Homo sapiens: one gene and its partners. The protein of the gene in region 3 purifies or fractionates together with the protein of the main gene of each other region. This does not show direct contact. Each region holds a gene or a part of one and is shown on either strand. Other genes may lie near its edges. The genes, in order: TBC1D9B, SMYD2, PPFIA1, CNTROB and IPO9.

Region 1 (4,040 bases), on a different chromosome or scaffold from region 3:
CCACCAGACAGCCAGCGAGAGCAGCTCAGAACTGGGGTGCTGCCGACCTGCCTGAGGTGCCCCCACCAGCCACACTGCCTTTGGGGAACAGCTCCAGGAGAGCTGGTCGGCTGCTTCTCTCCCCAGGTGCATGTTCCCACGCAGGGAGTATAGTGCGCGCCAGTTCCGGCAAATGTCCTCCCCGAAACGCTGCACCAAGCACAGGAGCTGTGCACAGACCACCCCTCAGTAACAGGCACAGCAGGCGCGGGTGGAAGGGGTCATTAGGGTTCCCCTGAGTTCTAGCAGGAACATTCCCCAGAGTTCTAGCAGGAACTATAGAATTCGTTAGTCCTCAGACTGGTCTATAGCCCTCATCATTGTTCACGTCAAAACCAGCATGTTGAGACTTGTATTCATTTGAAAAAAGGAATTGAGGGTTTGGCGGCCTTTATTTTAACCTGACCAAGTGAGGGAATGCTCAGGCCCTTTTGCTCTGGTGCCATAGGGCGGGGCTGGGCGGGCCAGGCAGGAGGTGTGGCATGGGAGACCTGCTCCCCAGGGCCTGGCCTGGGGCTGGCTGTACAGAAACACAGACTACATCTCAAGGACCCCAGGAGCTTGCAGTCCCAACAGCAGAATGTTATTCATGTTCTTTTTATTTTTGCGTTTGTCCAGAAGCACTACCACAGGAAGAGCAAGAAGGAAGTGGAAGTGAGGAGAGAGGAGGTACAGGCCATTCTCTGCCGCTGTTCTTAGAGACCCCAGCGTTGAGGCACCCTTGCTTGCTGGTCTTTTCCCCAGTCACTGCCAGGGAGCCCCCTACCCCGGGAGATGGCGGATGCGTCCCCCGATCAGGGAGCAGGCCTCGGGATGCACAGGAGGCTCCACGCTCTCCACCAGCCCCACGGGCACCCAGCCAGCCCTCTCTTGCCAGCTTCTCTCCAGCTGCCCTGTGACTCCCCATCTGAGAGAAGACATTGTGGATCATTGTCATCAGCTTAGGTCCAACCACTGCAGCAATTTAGGGAAAACCTGTGGCTGTTCTGGGTTTTTTTCCCATGACCACCTTCCCAAACGCCAGGGTGTTTTATGATAGGGCCCTGGTAACTCCATGCCAGAAAACACCCAACTCTTCCTCTCCCTGCTGTCAGCCCGCAGCCGTCTCACATGACAAAGATTAATCTCTTTCCTCCTAACCTGCAGAGGAGAAGGGGACCAGCTCTCCGGACTATCGGCACTACCTTCGAATGTGGGCCAAGGAGAAAGAGGCTCAGAAGGAGACGATTAAGGATCTTCCCAAGATGAACCAGGTAGGCTCCACTGGAGCCCACAGTAGACATTTCTGGAGAGTTCTGACCAAGACTGGGCCCTAACATCACCGCACCTGCACTGCAGCATCTCCTGGTGGGTGGGAAGGCTCCTCCCTGCCTCTAGAGCCCGTTAGTCCTGGTTGCCAGTCAGCGATGATTCCAGAAAGACAAGAGGCCAGTTGCTCCAGGGCCTTGTATAGGGGCATGTTTCCAGATTGAGTGAGTGTCTGTGAACCAGGAGCCAGAGGCTTGTAGGCTACCTTTGACAAGATATGCGTTCCACACCCTGCACCCTCCCAGCCCTGCCCAGGGCTCTGCACACGCAGGCTCACATGCATCCTCCACACCCGCTCTTCATTCACTGGTCTCGCAGATCAGAAGCATGGTGTCTTGCCAAGGGTCTCAAAGCCAGAAAATGGGAGACCCCAGCTCCAAACTGCAAGCGTTGAGCCAAAGGCAAGTCTGGAGCACCAGCCTGACCATGGCCCTCGGGCCAGACCCACGGTCTAGCTGTGCCCAGTAGGGGACCCTGCAATCTGACCACTCCCCCAGCAGGCCTGGAGGGTGGGCACCACGTGCGATGAGGATTCTTCCCATTCTTGGGCCAGGAGGCCTAGACGTGTGGCTTCAGGACCTAGCACCCACCCTCCCCAGCACCCCCCTCCCCAGGATCCCCCTCCCCAGCTGACCCAGGCTGTATTTTCCTCACCATCACCTTCTAAAGAGCTTCATTCAAGGGCTGAGTTGAGGCTGCTTCTGATTAAAACCAAAGGTGATTCTAAAACACAACGAAGTCCTTGTACTGACTGGATTTAGAGTCGTGGTAGAAATCCATCTCCCTGTGCCAACAGAACGGACCTAGAAACAGGGAGGCCCCAGGTCAGACCAGCATGCTCTGAGTGCCAAGAGAAAGGCAGCTGGAGGGGAAAGCCTTTTGAAGAGCTGTGTGGCCTCTCTGAGCCTGTGTCCTGATCTGTGAGATGGGACTGATGAGGCTCATGGAGATGATTAGCAAGACGGCAGCCAACATCCTTAGGCTGGTGCTTGTCATCAGTTTGGCTAATATGGACCCCGTCTGACTGGTCTTTTACCATCTCCCTGTTCTTCTGTTTTTCTCCCTAAAAGGAGCAGTTCATTGAGCTGTGCAAGACGCTTTACAACATGTTCAGTGAAGACCCCATGGAGCAGGACCTGTACCACGCCATCGCCACCGTGGCCAGCCTCCTGCTCCGCATCGGAGAGGTGGGGAAGAAGTTCTCAGCCCGCACAGGCAGGAAGCCCAGGGACTGTGCCACTGAGGAGGACGAGCCACCAGCACCCGAACTGCATCAGGACGCAGCCAGGGAGCTTCAGCCCCCAGCTGCAGGAGACCCCCAAGCCAAAGCAGGCGGAGACACACACCTCGGAAAAGCCCCACAGGAGAGCCAGGTGGTGGTGGAGGGGGGCAGCGGCGAGGGACAGGGCTCACCCTCCCAGCTGCTGTCTGACGATGAAACCAAAGACGACATGTCCATGTCCTCCTACTCGGTGGTCAGCACGGGCTCCCTGCAATGTGAAGACCTTGCAGACGACACGGTGCTGGTGGGCGGGGAGGCCTGCAGCCCCACAGCGCGCATCGGCGGCACCGTCGACACCGACTGGTGCATCTCCTTTGAGCAGATCCTGGCCTCCATCCTGACGGAGTCCGTGCTGGTGAACTTCTTTGAGAAGAGAGTGGACATTGGACTCAAGATCAAGGACCAAAAGAAAGTGGAGAGACAGTTCAGCACCGCCAGTGACCATGAGCAGCCTGGAGTTTCCGGCTGATGCCTGCAGCTGTGAGGCCTGGCCCAAGGTGTCATCAGTGGGGCTGGCCTCATCTCCTCCTGCCTTTCCTCCCTTATCAGTTTCTCTTTAAAGGTGTGCCCCTCCTGCTCTCCCAGGAGCAGTGAGTTGTGAGTGGAAAGAAGGCTGGTGCAGACCCAGCTGCCTTAGACAGATTCCCTGGGCCTGCATCTCCTGGCGCCGGCTGCTTCTGGGCCCAGGAAGAGGCTGTGGCTCCCACCTTCCTTACACCTGGTGGGAGCCCGCCTCGCACCAGCTGCACCTGCCTAGCATTACAGGCTCTCAGATCTGCCCTTGCTTGCCTCATACCTCTGTGCTCCACACTGCGGCCAGGCCAGCTGAGTCCCTCCATCCGTGGATGCTTTCCTGCAGCTATGTGGTATGGGGGTCATTCCTGCCTCTTGGCACCAGGTTGGGGGGCATGTGCTTGTTGGGCACCAAAGTGATGGAACCCTCAGGTGCTCTCCGGGAGCCTGAACCTCCTGACTGAGGAACATGGGCAGAACATGTTTATTGCACAGAGTGGGCGCTGCGCACAGGCGTGGCTGTACACGTGCTCTCAGCTCATCATCCTTTCCAGTAACTTTAAAAAAACATCCCTCAGGTCCTGATATATTTCCTTGGATTCATTTCACTTGGCTAGAAATTACACTGTGCTCAATGCCTTAATAAATCCCTGAAAGAAATAAAAACCACTGTGTGCAATGCCTTGCTGTGGCCCCCAACCACTGCTTAGGCCTCCCAACTTCTCCCCAGGCCAAGTATGGGGCCCTGGCTGTGTTCTGGAAGTTCAAGACACTTAGTCCTCCACAGTGGGTGGAAGAGTGCAAGGTCTGCCAGGTCAGATGGAGACGCAGAACCTGCTGGTGCAAGCTGGGCAGGTCCTGACCAACCTGCATCAGGGGATGCCCTGAGCTCCACAGG
Region 2 (4,040 bases), on a different chromosome or scaffold from region 3:
CTCATTTTAGGCTTTGGCTAAAAACAGATTCTCTTCTCCCTTGTGCATATCTTGTCATTTCTTTTCCTCCCTGCTCTTAGTTATATTTGGCGCGGCATTATTTAACTCTGCAGAACATCTTGGCCCAGAACTTGAGCTAAGGGGCTGCACCATAGACTGCATTAAATCATTAAGTGACATTATGTGCTTCCTTCTTGGGGGATCAGTGTGGAGGGAAGCGGGTAGGGAGATATCTTCATTCCTTCAACAACTATATTGAGTGCCTACTAAATGCCAGGCACTGTTGTCAGTTCTGGGGTTACAGCTATGAACAAAACAAAATTTCTTTATTTTCCTGGGGAGAGACAGATACTAAACCAAACAACTAATAAATATATAATATGCTCAGGTGGTGAGAAGTACTAAGAAGCAGCAGAAAGCAAGGAAAGGAAGAATGATGGGGAAGTGCTCTTTCTGACAGGGTGATTGTGGCAGGTATCTTGAGAAGGTGACATTCCAGCAGCGGCTGGAGAGGAGGGAGGGAGTCACATGGATATCCAGGGGAGGAGAGTGCTAGCCACAAAACAGAGCAAGTGCGAAGGGCCTTGAGGCAGGTACATGGCTCCAGGCGCAGCCAGGACACTTCTGTGGCTAAGTGCAGTGAGGCAGGTGAGAGTACGGTGGGGGATGATGGGCTGGGGTGGTGCAGGGACGCTCCCATCACGTGTGGCCTCCTAGGTCACCTTTAGCGCTTGGCCTTTTGCCTGGATGAGAAAAGCCATTAGGTTTTGAGCTGAGGACTGGCCTGATCCGAGTTTTGTCAACAGAATCCCTCAGGCTGCTCTCTGGAACCTAGTCCATGGGAGCAAGGACAGAAGCGGGCATCCAGTTAGAAGGCAGTGGCAGGACATTAGTCATGAGAGATGTTGGGGCTGCAGCCGGGTAGAAAGGTTGTGGAGCTAAGAAGTGATCAGATTCCAGGCAGAGACAGAGGATTTGCCAGAACTGACTGAATGTGGAGTGTGAGTGAGAGAGCAGCGTCAAGGATGACTCTAGCTTTCTGGCCTGAGCATTTATTTTTATTTTTGAGACAGAATCTCACACTGTTGCCCAGGCTGGAGTGTAGCGGTGCACTCTCGGCTCACTGCAACCTCTGCCTCCTGGGTTCAAGCGATTCTCCTGCCTCAGCCTCCTGAGTAGCTGGGACTGCAGGCACATGCCACCACACTTGGCTAATTTTTTTATTTTTAGTAGAGATGGGGTTTTATCACGTTGGCCAGGCCAATCATAAACTCCTGACCTCGGGTGATCCGCCCATGTCAGCCTCCCTGCCCTGAGCATTTATGGCCATTTTCTGAGCTAGGGAAGGCCAAGGACAGAGCAGGACAGTACCCAATTCCATCGTGAAAGAGACAGTGTGTAAGGGCTTCCATCAGTATACAACGTGCTCTGATATTTCCCATCTAAAAAAAAAAAAAAGTCCCCCGCAACTTTTCACTACTCTAAGCTGTGTCTCCTTTCATTTTTTCTTGAATCTGCTCCCTGTCATTTCTTACCCCATCATCCCACCAAAACTTGTTTTTATGAAAATCATCAAGCTTCCATGATTCCAAATCACATTCTCCGTCCTCTCACACTAAGCCTATCTCCAGCACTGGCATCATCATTTACTCCCTAGTCCTCAAAGTACTTGCTTCCCTCAGCCTCCAAAACACCATGGTGTCCTTCTCTCAATGCCTTCCCCATCTCAAGTGATGGCGCCTCCACCCTTCCAGCAGCAAATATCCTTCATCCCTCTACCCGGGGCAGGGAAACTTCAGGGCGTATGATAGAAAGAATACTACTGTTAGGCCAGGCACGGTGGCTCACGCCTGTAATCCCTGCACTTTGGGAGGCCGAAGCAGGTGGATCATGAGGTTAAGAGATCAAGACTATCCTGGCCAACATCTTGAAACCCCGTCTCTACTAAAAATACAAAAATTAGCCGGGCGTAGTGGCACACACCTGTAATCTCAGCTACTCAGGAGGCTGAGGCAGGAGAATCACTTGAACCCGGGAGGCAGAGGTTGCAGTGAGTCGAGATCGCGCCACTGCACTGCAGCCTGGCAACAGAGCGAGACTCTGTCTCAAAAAAAAAAAAGGAAAGAAAGAATACTACTGTTTTATCCAGTGCATCTTTGGGAAGTCCTAACTATTCCTAAATCTTTCCAGTGGTTGCCCTTCATGAAACCCTCATTTGTGCTTTTTAAAAAGTCGCCTGTAAAAGGGACTCATTGCTGTGTAAGTCAACTCTCCATTATTTGCCCTGACGTGAGAACAAAGCCAGAGCGGAACTGTGAGGCAACAAAGCCAAATCAATGGCTGATACTCAAATTGCTCCCTCTGCAATTTGACAGCTTGCACAGATGATGGAAAGATGTATGTGTTGTTTAGAATAATGAGGGGCTGCAGAAAGCCATGAGGTGCTTGAGGAAAAAACACAAAGTAGATCTTCTCATCCCAACAAGCTTGACCCAGGCCTGAGTGAAGGTCATACAATCCTGCCTATCTTAAAGGATGTTTTTATCTCTAGCTTTTGTGAGCATCCTCGTGTTTTCCAAAAGGAAACATATTTTACTTGACCTTAACTAGGGGGACTCACTGCATCCTCTCCTCTCACACTTTATTCCAGTGTATGTGCTATTTTTTAATAATGTTTTTTTCAATCTTCCCAGAAAGAAGATTGGCCCATGCACAAGCTGGAATGTTCTCCCATGGTTGTTTTTGGGGAAAACTGGAATCCCTCGGAGACTGTAAGACTAACAGCAAGGATTCTGGCCAAACAGGTGAGGAAATGGGACAATGTTCAAGTGCATTTTATTTTGTTTTTCTTTTAAAGGTCAGAAAGATGAGTAACTGACCTTTGGTAACCATCTCTCGTTAAACATCCTTAGACTACATTTCCTATCATATCCATATGGACAGGGGTGGGGAAAATACTCCAGGCATAATCTAGTTAGTTGTGTGCCCTGTGCAATTAGGATGTTGCTTACCCTAGACCAGGAGCATAGCCACAGCTCTGAAATTCTGAGCTGTTTTCATGACAGGTTTACATGGAAATACGTGACATGAAAAGCCTGACCTCAAATAATTAGAGCTTCCTAGGGAACCAGATTGGTCTGAGCAGCTTTGAGATTTTCCTCTCTTTCCATTCTGACATAAAGAGTGTACTCTGTTCCCCTTTCCTGTGTAATATTCTGCTCTTTCTTGGCTCCTTTCTTGCCTGTGCATAGGCAGGCAAAGAATTGGATGGAACAGCCTTGACTATGACATGTGCAAAGAAGAGAAAGAGTGGAAAAGTAGAAATAGAGGCAAGGGAGAGGGGAAGAGAGTTAAAAAAAAAAAGTGAAGAAGAAGGAAAGAAAGAGGTGCCCTTGATGGAAACAGATGATAGTCATCAATGGCTTTCTCCAGAAGTGATGCCAACTCTGACTATTCTGTGGTGGGCAGGACTATGCAAACTTACGCTCAAAGAGTGAGGAAGCTGAGAGACAGAAGAAAGAAGCTGACAAATCCAGTTTATTAGAAACATTTACTAGGACTTATGAACTGAAGCCATGTCTATGTCTTGGGCGGCAGCAAGACAAGATGGTGGATCCCTGCACCATTACCCACCAGAGCCAGGGCTTATATACCATAGGGAAGAAATGTGTACAGCAGTTACAAGGAAAGGCAAGGATGCTATGCAAATCTGCCTGAGAGCAAGATTTGTGCTCAAGATTGTATTGACCTAAGGCAGGATTTAAGGTAGCCATAGACAAAGTAGAAATCTTAGAAGCATTCCCAGAGCAGGAGTTAACCAGAAATCAACATGGTATATCAGCATCCAAGATGAAATTGCTTTAGCCACCGTACTGACTGTTCTCCGCCTGGTCTGGTTCATTCTTGCTGATTGCATAATAATTAGACACCTAATCTTCGAAGGGCCAAACTAAAAAGAGGACAGGAAAATGCCATAGAACTTGTCCTTGTGATCCAATGAAATAGGCAGTGTGGGGCTTAGAAGGCATATGTCCAGGCTG
Region 3 (4,040 bases):
AATTATTTAGAAGTATGCTAATTTTTAAATATTTAGTAGGGGGTTCTAGATAGCTTTTTATTATTGATTTCTAATTTCTGTTGAAGTCAAGAGAATGTACCTTGATTTCAGTCTCTTTAAGTATGTTGAGATTTGTCTGTCTTTGAGAATATACTATACAGACATTAAAAGCATATATATTCTGTTGTTGGGTGGCATGTTCTATATTCTGTTGTTGGGTAGAGTGTTCTATATTCTGTTGTTTGGTGGATTGTTCTATATTCTGTTGTTGAGTGGCGTGTTCTATGTTCTCTTGTTGGGTGGCGTGTTCTGTATTCTCTTGTTGGGTGGCGTGTTCTATCTTCTGTTGTTGGGTGGCGTGTTCTACATTCCATTGTTGGGTGGAGTGTTCTATATTCTGTTGTTGGGTGGTGTGTTCTATGAAACGTCAGGTCAAGTTTGTTAAGGGTTGTTAGTTTAGGTTTTCTATATTCTTAATTTTTTTCTTTTTTTGCTTCTTTCATCAGTTGCTATGAGAAAGAAGTGTTGAATTTTTTCAACTATAATTGTGAATTTGCCTGTTTCCCCATTTAGTCCTGTTGGTTGTTGCTTTATCTCTTCTCTAAAACTATATTTTAACTGACTTTTACTGATTTTGAAATGGATTTTTTCTTTAGGAAAACAAAGTGTTAAAATGTAAACCAACCAGAGATAATTTTAGTGAGCAGTGTTGAATTGAGCCTTCAAACTTGTTCATGAGTCGTGATCAATCTTTGTCACATTATTATACTAAAAACTATCTCAGAGAGGAAATTTATAGCCAGTTACAGTTTTTTTGTAGTTTGATTTAAAAGTTAAATTTATCACAACGAATCATATATTTTTCATGTTACTATTCCTGTTGTATAAAAATTTTACTAACAAATTTAAAAGGTGAGAAGAGATCAAATTATTTTGCAATTATAAAATTATCATTAGTTTAGCCTTTGAGAATATAGGTAATAGATTAAAAATTCATTTTAAAAATGATATAAACTACTTTTGAGACTTCCTCTGTAACTGACCTTTTCCATTTATGAAAAGCAGACACTCGCCTATGGGGACATGAACCACGAGTGGATCGGCAACGAGTGGCTCCCCAGCCTGGGCCTCCCCCAGTACCGCAGCTACTTCATGGAGTGCCTTGTAGACGCCAGGATGCTGGACCACTTGACCAAGAAAGACCTTCGAGGGCAGCTGAAAATGGTCGACAGTTTTCACAGGTAACTTAATGGAGATAGTTCTTAATAATTGGCTAAGATTTTTCACTGTTACCATCTCTAAATCATCTCTCTTTTCTTCCAAATAGAAACAGTTTCCAGTGTGGAATTATGTGCCTGAGAAGGTTAAATTATGACCGGAAAGAACTGGAAAGAAAAAGAGAAGAAAGTCAGAGTGAAATAAAAGGTTAGTACATGACATTTAATTGATTCGGTTTACTCCTACTTGCTGGTGTGTTTGGAGCCTCAGTGACTTCCTATTTTTCAAAAAATCAAGAAAGGCTAAATTTAAGTGGAGAAAACTAACTAGTCTAGTGTCATTGCAGAGGAGGGCTGGATGAAGTTGAGTGCTTTTGAGATTCTCTTCCACAGCTAGAGAACTGTTCCCTGTGTTCTCACACATCAGTCTGGAGGTTAAATGTCTCCGGCTAGTCGTTTCCTGTGAGTTGAGAGTTTTCCTTTGGTCATGCCCTGTGTACTCCTTCACTCCGAAATGCTGTTCCACACTGTTAGATAACAACAGAGCAAAGCTCACTTGATGATTCAAGTGTGAGAAATATGACTGGGGGCTTATCCAAGGGGTTCAGGAGAACAGGAGAGCACCGTGCAGTTCTGCTCCCGGAGGGGAAGGAGAGGCAGCGTCTGCATTTCAGCTGGTCCTTGAAGAAGGAGGAGGAGCTGCTTAGGGTAAGGAAAAGGCATTTCAGTTGGAAAACACAGGCCAGGGAGGCGTTAGAGGATGTGAGACATTCATCCAGAAGACGTGGAGTTGGTTCTCTTCTCCGTTGGGGAGTCCCTCACTCGTACTCAAATTTATTTGTTTGTTTGTTTATTTATTTATTTAATTTATTTTGAGACAGGGTCTTGCTCTGTAGCCCAGGCTAGGCTGGAGTGCAGTGGTGTGATCACAGCTCACTACAGCCTTGAACTCCTGGGCTCAAGTGCTCTTCCTGCCTTAGCCTCCCTAGTAGCTCCTGGGAGTACAGGTGTGCTCCACCATGCCTGGAATTTTTTTTTTTTTTGTAGAGACAGGGTCTCGCTATGTTGCCTAGGCTGATCTCGAACTTTTGGGCTCAGGGGATCCTCCCACCTTGGCCTTCCAAAGTGTTGGGATTACAGGTGTGAGCCACCACACCCAGTCAGAATTTGCTTTTAAAATTAGACAGTAAACATTAAGCTCAGAGTAATGACTCCCAGAATTCCTGGAATGCAAGGAAGTCACCAATAACAATAATGATAAGAAGAGGCCAGTCTTACTAACAGTGAGTAGGTGCCAGGTGGTGTTCTAAGTACTCAGGGGTTGCTTTCTTTCATCTTTACCTTAGCCCTGTCAGTCTAAGTGCTGTTTTCATCCCCACTTTATACTAAGAAAGAAACTAAGGATAAAAATATGGTTGGGAGATGGCCCAGTTGAAGGGAAGTCTACTTGTGATTGAGTTAATGTGAATCAGGAGAAAAGTCGTAAGTCGACATTTATACAGTGTGTGTATATGTATGGACTTTTATCCAGAAAAGGGCATTGGCAATGAAATATGTCCATCTGTTTTGTTTTCTGTATCTATTTTACATCTTTTTCCAATAGACAAAGATCTTTGGAAGTGTCTTTGGAAGTGATTGGTGATCATCTGCATATATTTTTAGAGTGGCTATTTTTAGATCTAATAGAGCAAATTGAATAATTTGTTAATTTGCATAAGATATTGTGGCTGGGCATGGTAGCTCATGCCTGTAATCTCAGCACTTTGGGAGGCCAAGGCAGGAGTATTGTCTGAGCCCATGAGTTCAAGACCAGCCTGGGGAACATAGTGAGACCCTGTCAGTACAAAAAAATTAGCTGAGCTTCGTGACACACGCCTGTAGTTCCAGCTCCTCAGGAGGCTGAGGTGGGAAAAATCACTTGAGCCCAGGAGGTTGAGGCTGCAGTGAGCTATGATGGTACCAGGCTGTATCCAGCCTGGGTGACAGAGCAGGACATTGTCAAGAAAAAGAGAGGAAAAAAAAAGATTTTCTGCAAAGTCTCTAATGTGCTGGATGATATTGTTAAGTTTCTCTCATTTTAAAATGAGACAAAGACTTCGAGATTAGAAATGAGAGGTTTCTGTTGAATTGAGCAAAGTGTTCATATTATTATGGAGCCAGCTCCATCCGTGATGAAGTATTTCAGAAGACTCTCCAGTCTGTGTGTGAAGCATGTTTATACATGTTAGGTATTCAAGTTCTTGCAGTCCTCTGGCTTCTGATCCCTGGATCCTCATCATCTTCTTTTCTCTAGAAATAATAACTTCATTCCTCTCGTGCTCACTGGAAGGATGAGTTCTAATGGGAGAGTCTCCCTGAGAGTGGAGCAGGGCCAGGACACCATTGTCTCAGTGCAGCAAATGGTTGTCTATTTAGCAGTGTCTCCCAGCACTTTTCTCAGGAGCCGAAGGATTAGGAACCATGGTAGGAATCTTTCTCCTGCATTACAGGGTACATGTGATAAAGATGGCTTTCTGAAGCCACTTTTATAATTGTCTTTATTCTTTTGCAGACGTGCTTGTTTGGAGCAATGATCGAGTGATTCGCTGGATCCTGTCAATTGGCCTTAAAGAATATGCAAACAATCTTATAGAGAGTGGTGTTCACGGAGCACTTCTGGCCTTAGATGAAACCTTCGACTTCAGTGCACTGGCACTGCTGTTACAGATCCCGACGCAGAACACACAGGTGACGCCAAACCTGTCTGTGTCTGCACTCATTGTTCAGTTGGCACCCTGATTATAGACAGCTAGTTATTCGAATAGAAAGAAACTTTAAAAAAAA
Region 4 (4,040 bases), on a different chromosome or scaffold from region 3:
TTTCTGCCTCTCTCCTGGTCAGGCTCCTCCTGCTGGACCCTCCAGCCCCGGGCCTCAGGAGCCCGAGAAGGAGGAGAGGAGGGTCTGGACTATGCCTCCCATGGCCGTGGCCCTGAAGCCTGTATTGCAGCAGAGCCGGGAAGCAAGGGACGAGCTACCTGGAGCGCCTCCTGTTCTTTGCAGTTCCTCCTCAGATCTTAGCCTCCTGTTGGGCCCCTCTTTTCAGAGCCAGCATTCTTTCCAGCCCCTGGAGCCCAAACCAGACCTCACTTCATCCACAGGTAACTGGGGGCAGAAGTCACTGGGGTTCCCCTTCTGTGCATGAATTGGCTCCCTCTTTCGTACCCTGCTTTCTGTCTGATACTTGAGCATTTAGTTTCCCAGATGCCTTTAGTGATCGCAAGTTGCAAGGAGCAGAAATCTGCTCACATTGGTCCAAATAAAGGGATTGAGATCTCATGGAAATATGACATCGCTGGACTTAATGAGAACTGGAGTTGGGAACGGGGTACTATCAGGAACTGAGGCAGCTAGCTGGCCCTTTTCTGTGGGCCTGCATAGCCTCCTGGGTCCACCTCTCCTGCACATCTGCTCTTTTTTCTTGCTAGACCAGCATTCAAGGTTCTCACCCTTCATAACTTCAGTTTACACATGGGTTTGACCAGCTGTGATACTGACTCTAGCTGAGCCTCTAGACATTTATAGAGACATCGGTGTCTCAGTTTTTTTAGGTCCAGTTTAAAGAGGCCATCTGATTGGATTGGCTGACCTTGGGTGTGGTGTCCACCCCTAGTTTAATGTCACCTGTGATTTGAGTGGATGGGGGCATTCTGTGTGGTACAAACATGACAACCTAGGTCGAATTAAAAATGAGGGATGGGGCCGGGTGCAGTGGCTCACGCCTGTAATGCTAGCGCGTTGGGAGGCTGAGGTGGGAGGATGGCTTGGTGCCAGGAGTTCCAGACCAGTCTGACCCATATAGTGAGACCTCATCTCTACACAAAATAAAAAGTTAGCAGGATGTGGTGGCACACACCCAAATTTCCAGCTACCCAGGGAGGCTGAGACAGAAGGATTGCTTGAGCCAAGGAGTTTGGGGCTACAGTGAGCTAAGAAGTTGCCATTGTACTCTAGCCTGGGCAACACAGCAAGACTCTGTCTCTTAAAAAAAAAAAAAAGAGATTACAGCTCACGCCTGTAATCCCAGTACTTTGGGAGGCCGAGGCGGGCAGATCACAAGGTCAGGATATCGAGACCATCCTGGCTAACACAGTGAAACCCCGTCTCTACTAAAAATACAAAAAAGTTAGCCGGGCGTGGTGGCAGGCATCTGTAGTCCCAGCTACTCGGGAGGCTGAGGCAGGAGAATGGTGTGAACCCGGGAGGCGGAGCTTGCAGTGAGCCGAGATCGCGCCGCTGCACTTCAGCCTGGGCGACAGAGCGAGACTCCATCTCAAAAAAAAAAAAAAAAAGAGAGATTAGTTGTAGCACAATTAAAAATTTTTTAATTATGTGAGAATAATAAAAGAATGAGGCATATTCGGGGGAAGAGGTCAGAACATGTGTGTTACTCATTTCCATTCTTCAGGGAGTTTGTGAGGGTATTTATTTGTTTAGAGTTTGAGTACCACAGCTTTCTTCTGTCTATATTTCTGTCTTAGAATTCAGCTGTGCCATCTCTCAGTCACCTCCAACCCTTCCCTCTCCAGCTACTTTAAACCTCCATCTTCATCTTCTCTTAGCTGTGATGTTCCTCTTCCATTTAATAGGCCCCTTTCTTCTGAGTATTAGGTGAGTTGATTTGTGGAGAAGCCCCTTCCCCCCTGAACACACTTGCACCCACCCATACCTGTTTCACTTTATAGCTGGGGCCTTCTCTGCACTTGGGGCCTTCCATCCCGATCATAGGGCAGAAAGGCCATTCCCTGAGGAAGATCCTGGACCTGACGGGGAGGGCCTCCTAAAGCAAGGGCTGCCGCCTGCTCAGCTGGAGGGCCTCAAGAATTTTTTGCACCAGGTAAGAGAGATTCCACCCAGACTAGCTCACTTTCTTCTTCCCTTTCTCCTTTCCTCTTTCTGCTCTGGGAATCCAGGACTCTGGCCTCATTCCCTGTTTATGACTAACTCTTTGTCCCAGCTTCTTCTCTCAGATCCCTGGGCGTTTTTCTCTATCAGTCCCTAGGGAACTTGACAATCTTATTCACCCACAGTTGCTGGAGACAGTGCCCCAGAACAATGAGAACCCTTCTGTCGACCTGTTGCCCCCTAAGTCTGGTGAGTTCCAACTCTGAAGAAGGTTGGGGCTGGGGCCTAGGAAAGATCGGAGTTGGTTATCTAGGATGAATTTTTAGGAGCTGGCAAAAGTAATAAAGCCTTATAAATGCTGGGTGGTGGGACTTCCTTGGTTCTATGCCCCATTTCCTGATTCTTGGCATTCTTTCCTTTTGCTAGGTCCTCTGACTGTCCCATCTTGGGAGGAAGCCCCTCAAGTGCCACGTATTCCACCGCCTGTCCACAAAACCAAAGTTCCCTTAGCCATGGCATCCAGTCTTTTCCGGGTCCCTGAGCCTCCCTCCTCCCATTCACAAGGCAGTGGTCCCAGCAGTGGTTCCCCAGAGAGAGGTGAGCATGTTCTGGTTTATTAGGGAAAAAAGGAGGGACAGTCCTGAGTGTGGATCCAGTACAGGCACTTACAGTCCTTCTGAATTCCTGGGGAAATGGGCTGAGGGCTGGGGAGACAGGCCCTAGGATGACGCCTGTGATTATTGCGATGTCTGTCAGGTGGAGATGGGCTTACATTCCCAAGGCAGCTGATGGAGGTGTCTCAACTGTTGCGACTCTACCAGGCTCGGGGCTGGGGGGCTCTGCCTGCTGAGGATCTCCTGCTCTACCTGAAGAGGCTGGAACACAGCGGGTACAAGCCTGGGAGGAAGGAGGAAGGATTCTCCGGGTGGAAGCTGGATTATGGGGAGTGGAGTGGGTGTGTTTTACACTGAATTGAATCGTTGTCCTTTTCTGGGGAGGAAAGTGAAGGATGAGAGGTGGATCCACAGATCTTCTCTAACTGCCCCACACTTTTCTTTTATCTCCTCCTTTCTATTGCTTTTTTCTTCTAAACAAAAAAATCTTTTCCCCGGGTCTCTCTACCTTCGTTTTTTTCCTCTTTACCCCTCAGCTCAAAACTCAGAATCCTAGACTTTTGACTAGCTAGTGTAACTCGTTATTTACTTCCACTAATGTCTCCTCCCAGTTGATGCCCAGGTCTATCGAGTTTGATCTTATTCTTAAGAGATAGAATTGGGGAGTAGTTCTTCCATCCAGTATTGGGTAACCGGGGGGACGGAGATCCCCATCCTCATACCTTTGATTTGTGTAGCAGGACTGATGGCCGAGGGGATAATGTCCCCAGAAGGAACACAGACTCCCGCTTGGGTGAGATCCCCCGGAAAGAGGTGAGGGAAAGTCAGGCAGGGACCAGGGGAGAAAAGGGCTCTCACTGACCAGCTCCTTCACCTCTGCACACTCCTGGCTGGCCCCTCCATTCCACCCCTGCATTCTGTAGCATGGCCTTTCCTCCCTGCAGACTCATCTGGCCCTCTCCACGTGCATTTCCTCAGTGGGGTGGGGAATTGAGAGGATCTGACGCTGATTTCTTCCTCTCTCTTCCCTCAACTCTCAGATTCCCTCCCAGGCTGTCCCTCGCCGCCTTGCTACAGCCCCCAAGACTGAAAAACCTCCCGCACGGAAGAAAAGTGGGCACCCTGCCCCGAGTAGCATGAGGAGCCGGGGGGGAGTCTGGAGATGAGCCCCCCTACCCTCTCTCCTCTTTGTTCTCTCATTGTTGTTATTTTAATAAATGCTCATTAGTCTGTATCAGAGTCTCTGGCTCATAGGAATTTGGAAAATAGAGGTTTTGTAGGGAATCACTTCGTAAAGAAACCACATTTGGTTGAGTACTTTTTTTATATGTTACATGTTTATATGTCATTTCCTGTGGGAAAAGACATGAATGCTTTGGAAGACGGTCTATGACAAGATTT
Region 5 (4,040 bases), on a different chromosome or scaffold from region 3:
ACTATGGGATGCCTACTCAAGGCACTTGTAGGATACAAAGATTAGACATGATTTCTACTCTCAGAGACCTTACTAGTAGGAGTAAGAAAACATATTCAACAATGCAGCATATGATAAGTACAGAGTGAAACAGGATATTCCCAACGCATCTGAGCTCTGGATGTACAACCATTTTAATTTGTGATTCAGAGAATGGAAGTGATGGACTGAGACACCCGATAATAGATTACCTATTTAAAATCACAGAGCAGAACATTTTCAAATGACATAAGCTACTCCCAGAACTATCCTATGGAGAGGAAGTAAATGGACCGAAAATGGAGCAAACAATACCAAAGGTTCCATGATTTAAGTACTGAGAGAGAAAGCAAAGGCAGTGTTTTCGGATGGTGATCTGGCTCCAAGGATGAGAAAAGGCATGGCATGGCAGAAGCAAGTAGCAGAAAATGCCACATAGACAACAATGATTCTCAGCTACTGCTCTGTATTGCGGAAGAAATCGGTCTAATAGTAAAGGGCTACCTTTTTTTTTTTTTTAAACCAAGTCTCGCTCTGTCACCCAAGGTGGAATACAGTGGTGTGATCTCAGTTCTCTGCAACCTCTGCCTCCTGGTTCAAGTGATTCTCCTGCCTCAGCCTCTTGAGTAGCTGGGACTACAGGCTCCTGCTACCACACCCAGCTAATTTTTATATTTTTAGTAGAGATGGGGTTTCGCCAAGTTGGCCAGGCTGGTCTTGAACTCCTGACCTCAGGTGAGTCACCTGCCTTAGCCTCCCAAAGTGCTGGGATTAGAGGCATGAGCCATCGCGCCTGGCCTACTTTTTTCTTTTTAAGACAGATGGCTAACATGGGTATGAGAATGGAACATTTTAATTATTTGGATATTGGCCAAAAATAAAGTTTGAGAAAAATGACAGGAAACAAACAGGAAGAATGTGCCTGATACAGAATGCCTGAGGGCATTCTGGACTTAACAATGGGAGCAGTACTCGATAATTCTCAAGGTACAGCAACCAGATTTGGATTCCATTCAAATGCCAAAAACAACCATGAATGGGAACGCCAATTTGGGAAGAAACATAAACATCACGGAAGAATTATGAACTAGGCAATATTAGATTGTCATTAGGTGAAGCTTGAATCGGCCTCTGGGCTGTTTTAGAGGTTCGGATGAGTTCAAGCTGTAGGGTGCAAACAATTTTCACTCAAAGGACACAAGAATATCTGGCCTACCAGTCTAAGTGAACAATATAACCAAGTTAATGACAGGTTTAAAGAGTTTCCTTTATATATATATATATATATATATATATTATACTTTGAGTTCTAGGGTACATGTACACAATGTGCAGGTTACATATGTATACATGTGCCATGTTGGTGTGCTGCACCCATTAACTTGTCACTTACATCAGGTATATCTCCTAATGCTGATCCCTCCCCCAACCCCACAACAGGTTTAAAGAGTTTCTAGAATCCTGGCACGTGCTGAAACATACCTGAGAGGTTGAGGTCTGCAAGGATGACATTGGTCAGGAACCCATGCATGTCAAAATGAATCCTGCCATTTTTCACACTGTCAGTGATGATGGCCTTCACTGAGCCTAGGGCAAGCATGCATGCCTCATGGATCTTCCACCTGTGAAAGGATACTACAGCCTAGTAAAACATACTAAACTGCCAAAAGAGATAAATATTTGAGGAAACAAGATTCAGAAAAGGGCACTCCAGCACAATCTCTTCCAAAAGAGTCATTTACCTTAAGCCCTTCCATTCTAACCTATAGCTGAAAAGAGTGAAATTTTAATAATAAGAGATTAAAATCTGTTATTAAATTAAAACCAGATTTTCAAATTAAGATAAAAATAAATCCATCCTTTCAAGACTTTTTAAGAAGGGGTAAACAAAAGCATCTTAACCAATTAGCGGCTCACTCTTACCAGTGCTCAGTGCCACTGTTTTTGGTTTGCTCAGCTTCTTGTAAATGTCGAGTGGCTGCAGCAGCCAGGGCTGCTGCACTTTCATTCTGGAAATCTGTGGCCACAGCCTATAGAGAGAGAAGAGCTAATAAATCTGTTTGTGCCCATTAAATGCATTTTAATTGTAAACCGCTTCAGTCATGACTGTTAGAAGTGATTGGTTCAAGCTCTTTCACATACATGTGCAAACCCCTAATTGTATTAAAAATGTTATACCAGTAGGTCAGGGTCTCTAATGAAATTAAAGTAGTATCTGTATTTCGGTAGTGCCTAGGCATTGTAAGGCTAACCAGTTGGCTCCTTTGGCTATATTCAGCAGAGCATAAGTGAGCAATAATAGATCTAGCTTTGGATGACAATGGACCAAATATTTGCTCTCTTGGAGACTGATGATAGAAAAATAAGTCTAATCTACTAATTGGAACTGAATATAATCTTTCACAGCTCCTTAGAAATACTAAATGATAATGAGAAGTGATTCATCAACAGAGAACAAATCTCCTACCCAACAAGAAGCAAGTGGCAGTTTCTTCTTAGTATTTCAGCCTAGAGACAACTCTATGCTCTAGTCAGAAGAGGCAAAGAAAACATGAGCAGGTATTTGGATGTTAATCTTTCAGCAATCTGTTTTGTTTTGCTAGGTTTGCCAACCTTTTGTCTGTGCTATAGATTCTTGTTGAAGAGTGAATTAAACTGAAATGGCTTTTTTTTTTTTTTTTGAGACCAAGTTTCACTCTTGTCGCCCAGGCTGGAGCGCAATGGTGTAATCTTGGCTCACCACAACCTCCGCCTCCCGGGTTCAAGCAATTCTCCTGCGTCAGCCTCCCGAGTAGCTGGGATTACAGGCATGCGCCATCACGCCCGGCTAATTTTGTATGTTTAGTAGAGATGGGGTTTCTCCATGTTGGTCAGGCTAGTCTTGAACTCTGGACCTCAGGTGATCTGCCCGCCTCGGCCTCCCCAAGTGCTGGGATTACAGGTGTGAGTCACCACGCCCAGCCATAAACTGAAATGTTCTTGATTCAACTACCCTTACTCCATGGAACACTTTATCCTCTATACAATTCTCCCCCGCACCCCGGCCCTATGGTCTGCACAATTCTTTTATCTAATATTTAGTTTTAAGTTAGAACCAGTAGCAATGATTTTAGAATTTCTGAGTCTCGAATTTCATTTCAGAAACTCTCTTGCATCCCCAATAAAGTCTGAGATAAAGCCACCCAACAACACTGCTCACCTTGGATTAGTTGTCTACAAAAAAGAAGAAATGCTCAAGTGACTGATAGAAATTATGTGGCTGAAGTATCAAGGTAAACTTACCAGCAACAAGTCTTGAGCTGCTATTCTAACAGTATAGGAGAATGTATCATCATCTTCATCTTCTACAAATTGTTGGGGGTTGGCTGTCCATACTTTAATCTGAAAAGATCAAGTTATGTCTTTGTGATGCTGCCAATCTGATTCATAGCTTTTCATCAACAGATACAGGAAGATTTCAACCTATTATCCTGAAAAAACTCTAGCCTTTTGCTGGATGCAATGGCTCACAACTGTAATCCTGACACTTTGGGAGGCCAAGGTGGGAGGACTGCTTGAGCCCAGGAGTTTGAGACCAGCCTGGGCAACATAGTGAGACCCCACCTCTACAAAAAATAAAAAAGTCAACTGGGCATGGTGGCATATGCCTGTGGTCTCAGCTACTCGGGAGGCTGAGGCAGGAGGATGGCTTGAGCCTGGGAGGTCAAGGCTGCCGTGAGCTTTGTCTACACCACTGCACTCCAGCCTGAGCAAAACAGCAAGACCCTGTCCCAAAAAGCAAACAAAACAAAACAACAACAACAACAAAAACTGAAACAAAAACTCTAGCTTAAAAAAATCTTTTCTTTTTGATGTAGAGAAATAAATACTATTAAGTAGCAAGGTAGGTAGCAATGGCTATTGCTCTCTTTTAGAATCTGGCTGATTACTAGCTCTCTGCCAATGTCAACCTGCTGTTACCCTTTGATAGATCGATTTTCTGAATAGATTAAGTCTGATAGACTATTTATTGTGAAAATTAT

Evidence for each region.
Region 1: the proteins of PPFIA1 (region 3) and TBC1D9B fractionate together in Homo sapiens (co-fractionation; one large-scale study listed by BioGRID). This does not show direct contact.
Region 2: the proteins of PPFIA1 (region 3) and SMYD2 fractionate together in Homo sapiens (co-fractionation; one large-scale study listed by BioGRID). This does not show direct contact.
Region 4: the proteins of PPFIA1 (region 3) and CNTROB purify together in Homo sapiens (co-immunoprecipitation; one large-scale study listed by IntAct). This does not show direct contact.
Region 5: the proteins of PPFIA1 (region 3) and IPO9 fractionate together in Homo sapiens (co-fractionation; one large-scale study listed by BioGRID). This does not show direct contact.

What each region holds. Positions count from the first base shown.
Region 1 is NC_000005.10:179,862,506-179,866,545, reverse strand, and holds part of TBC1D9B (TBC1 domain family member 9B), read left to right. Parts: intron 1-657; coding exon 658-708; intron 709-1,185; coding exon 1,186-1,292; intron 1,293-2,417; coding exon 2,418-3,098; 3' UTR 3,099-4,040. UniProt on the Homo sapiens protein: May act as a GTPase-activating protein for Rab family protein(s).
Region 2 is NC_000001.11:214,312,069-214,316,108, forward strand, and holds part of SMYD2 (N-lysine methyltransferase SMYD2), read left to right. Parts: intron 1-2,693; coding exon 2,694-2,804; intron 2,805-4,040. UniProt on the Homo sapiens protein: Protein-lysine N-methyltransferase that methylates both histones and non-histone proteins, including p53/TP53 and RB1. Specifically trimethylates histone H3 'Lys-4' (H3K4me3) in vivo. The activity requires interaction with HSP90alpha.
Region 3 is NC_000011.10:70,371,150-70,375,189, forward strand, and holds part of PPFIA1 (liprin-alpha-1), read left to right. Parts: intron 1-1,043; exon of another isoform or gene 1,044-1,062; coding exon of another isoform or gene 1,063-1,065; coding exon 1,066-1,241; exon of another isoform or gene 1,242-1,327; coding exon 1,328-1,425; intron 1,426-3,768; coding exon 3,769-3,944; intron 3,945-4,040. UniProt on the Homo sapiens protein: May regulate the disassembly of focal adhesions. May localize receptor-like tyrosine phosphatases type 2A at specific sites on the plasma membrane, possibly regulating their interaction with the extracellular environment and their association with substrates.
Region 4 is NC_000017.11:7,945,706-7,949,745, forward strand, and holds part of CNTROB (centrobin), read left to right. Parts: intron 1-22; coding exon 23-281; intron 282-1,661; coding exon of another isoform or gene 1,662-1,795; exon of another isoform or gene 1,796-1,855; intron 1,856-1,865; coding exon 1,866-2,017; intron 2,018-2,210; coding exon 2,211-2,274; intron 2,275-2,451; coding exon 2,452-2,622; intron 2,623-2,781; coding exon 2,782-2,914; coding exon of another isoform or gene 2,915-2,980; intron 2,981-3,376; coding exon of another isoform or gene 3,377-3,379; coding exon 3,380-3,452; intron 3,453-3,679; coding exon 3,680-3,805; 3' UTR 3,806-4,040. UniProt on the Homo sapiens protein: Required for centriole duplication. Inhibition of centriole duplication leading to defects in cytokinesis.
Region 5 is NC_000001.11:201,856,455-201,860,494, reverse strand, and holds part of IPO9 (importin-9), read right to left. Parts: intron 3,400-4,040; coding exon 3,301-3,399; intron 2,049-3,300; coding exon 1,942-2,048; intron 1,641-1,941; coding exon 1,501-1,640; intron 1-1,500. UniProt on the Homo sapiens protein: Nuclear transport receptor that mediates nuclear import of proteins, such as histones, proteasome and actin. Serves as receptor for nuclear localization signals (NLS) in cargo substrates.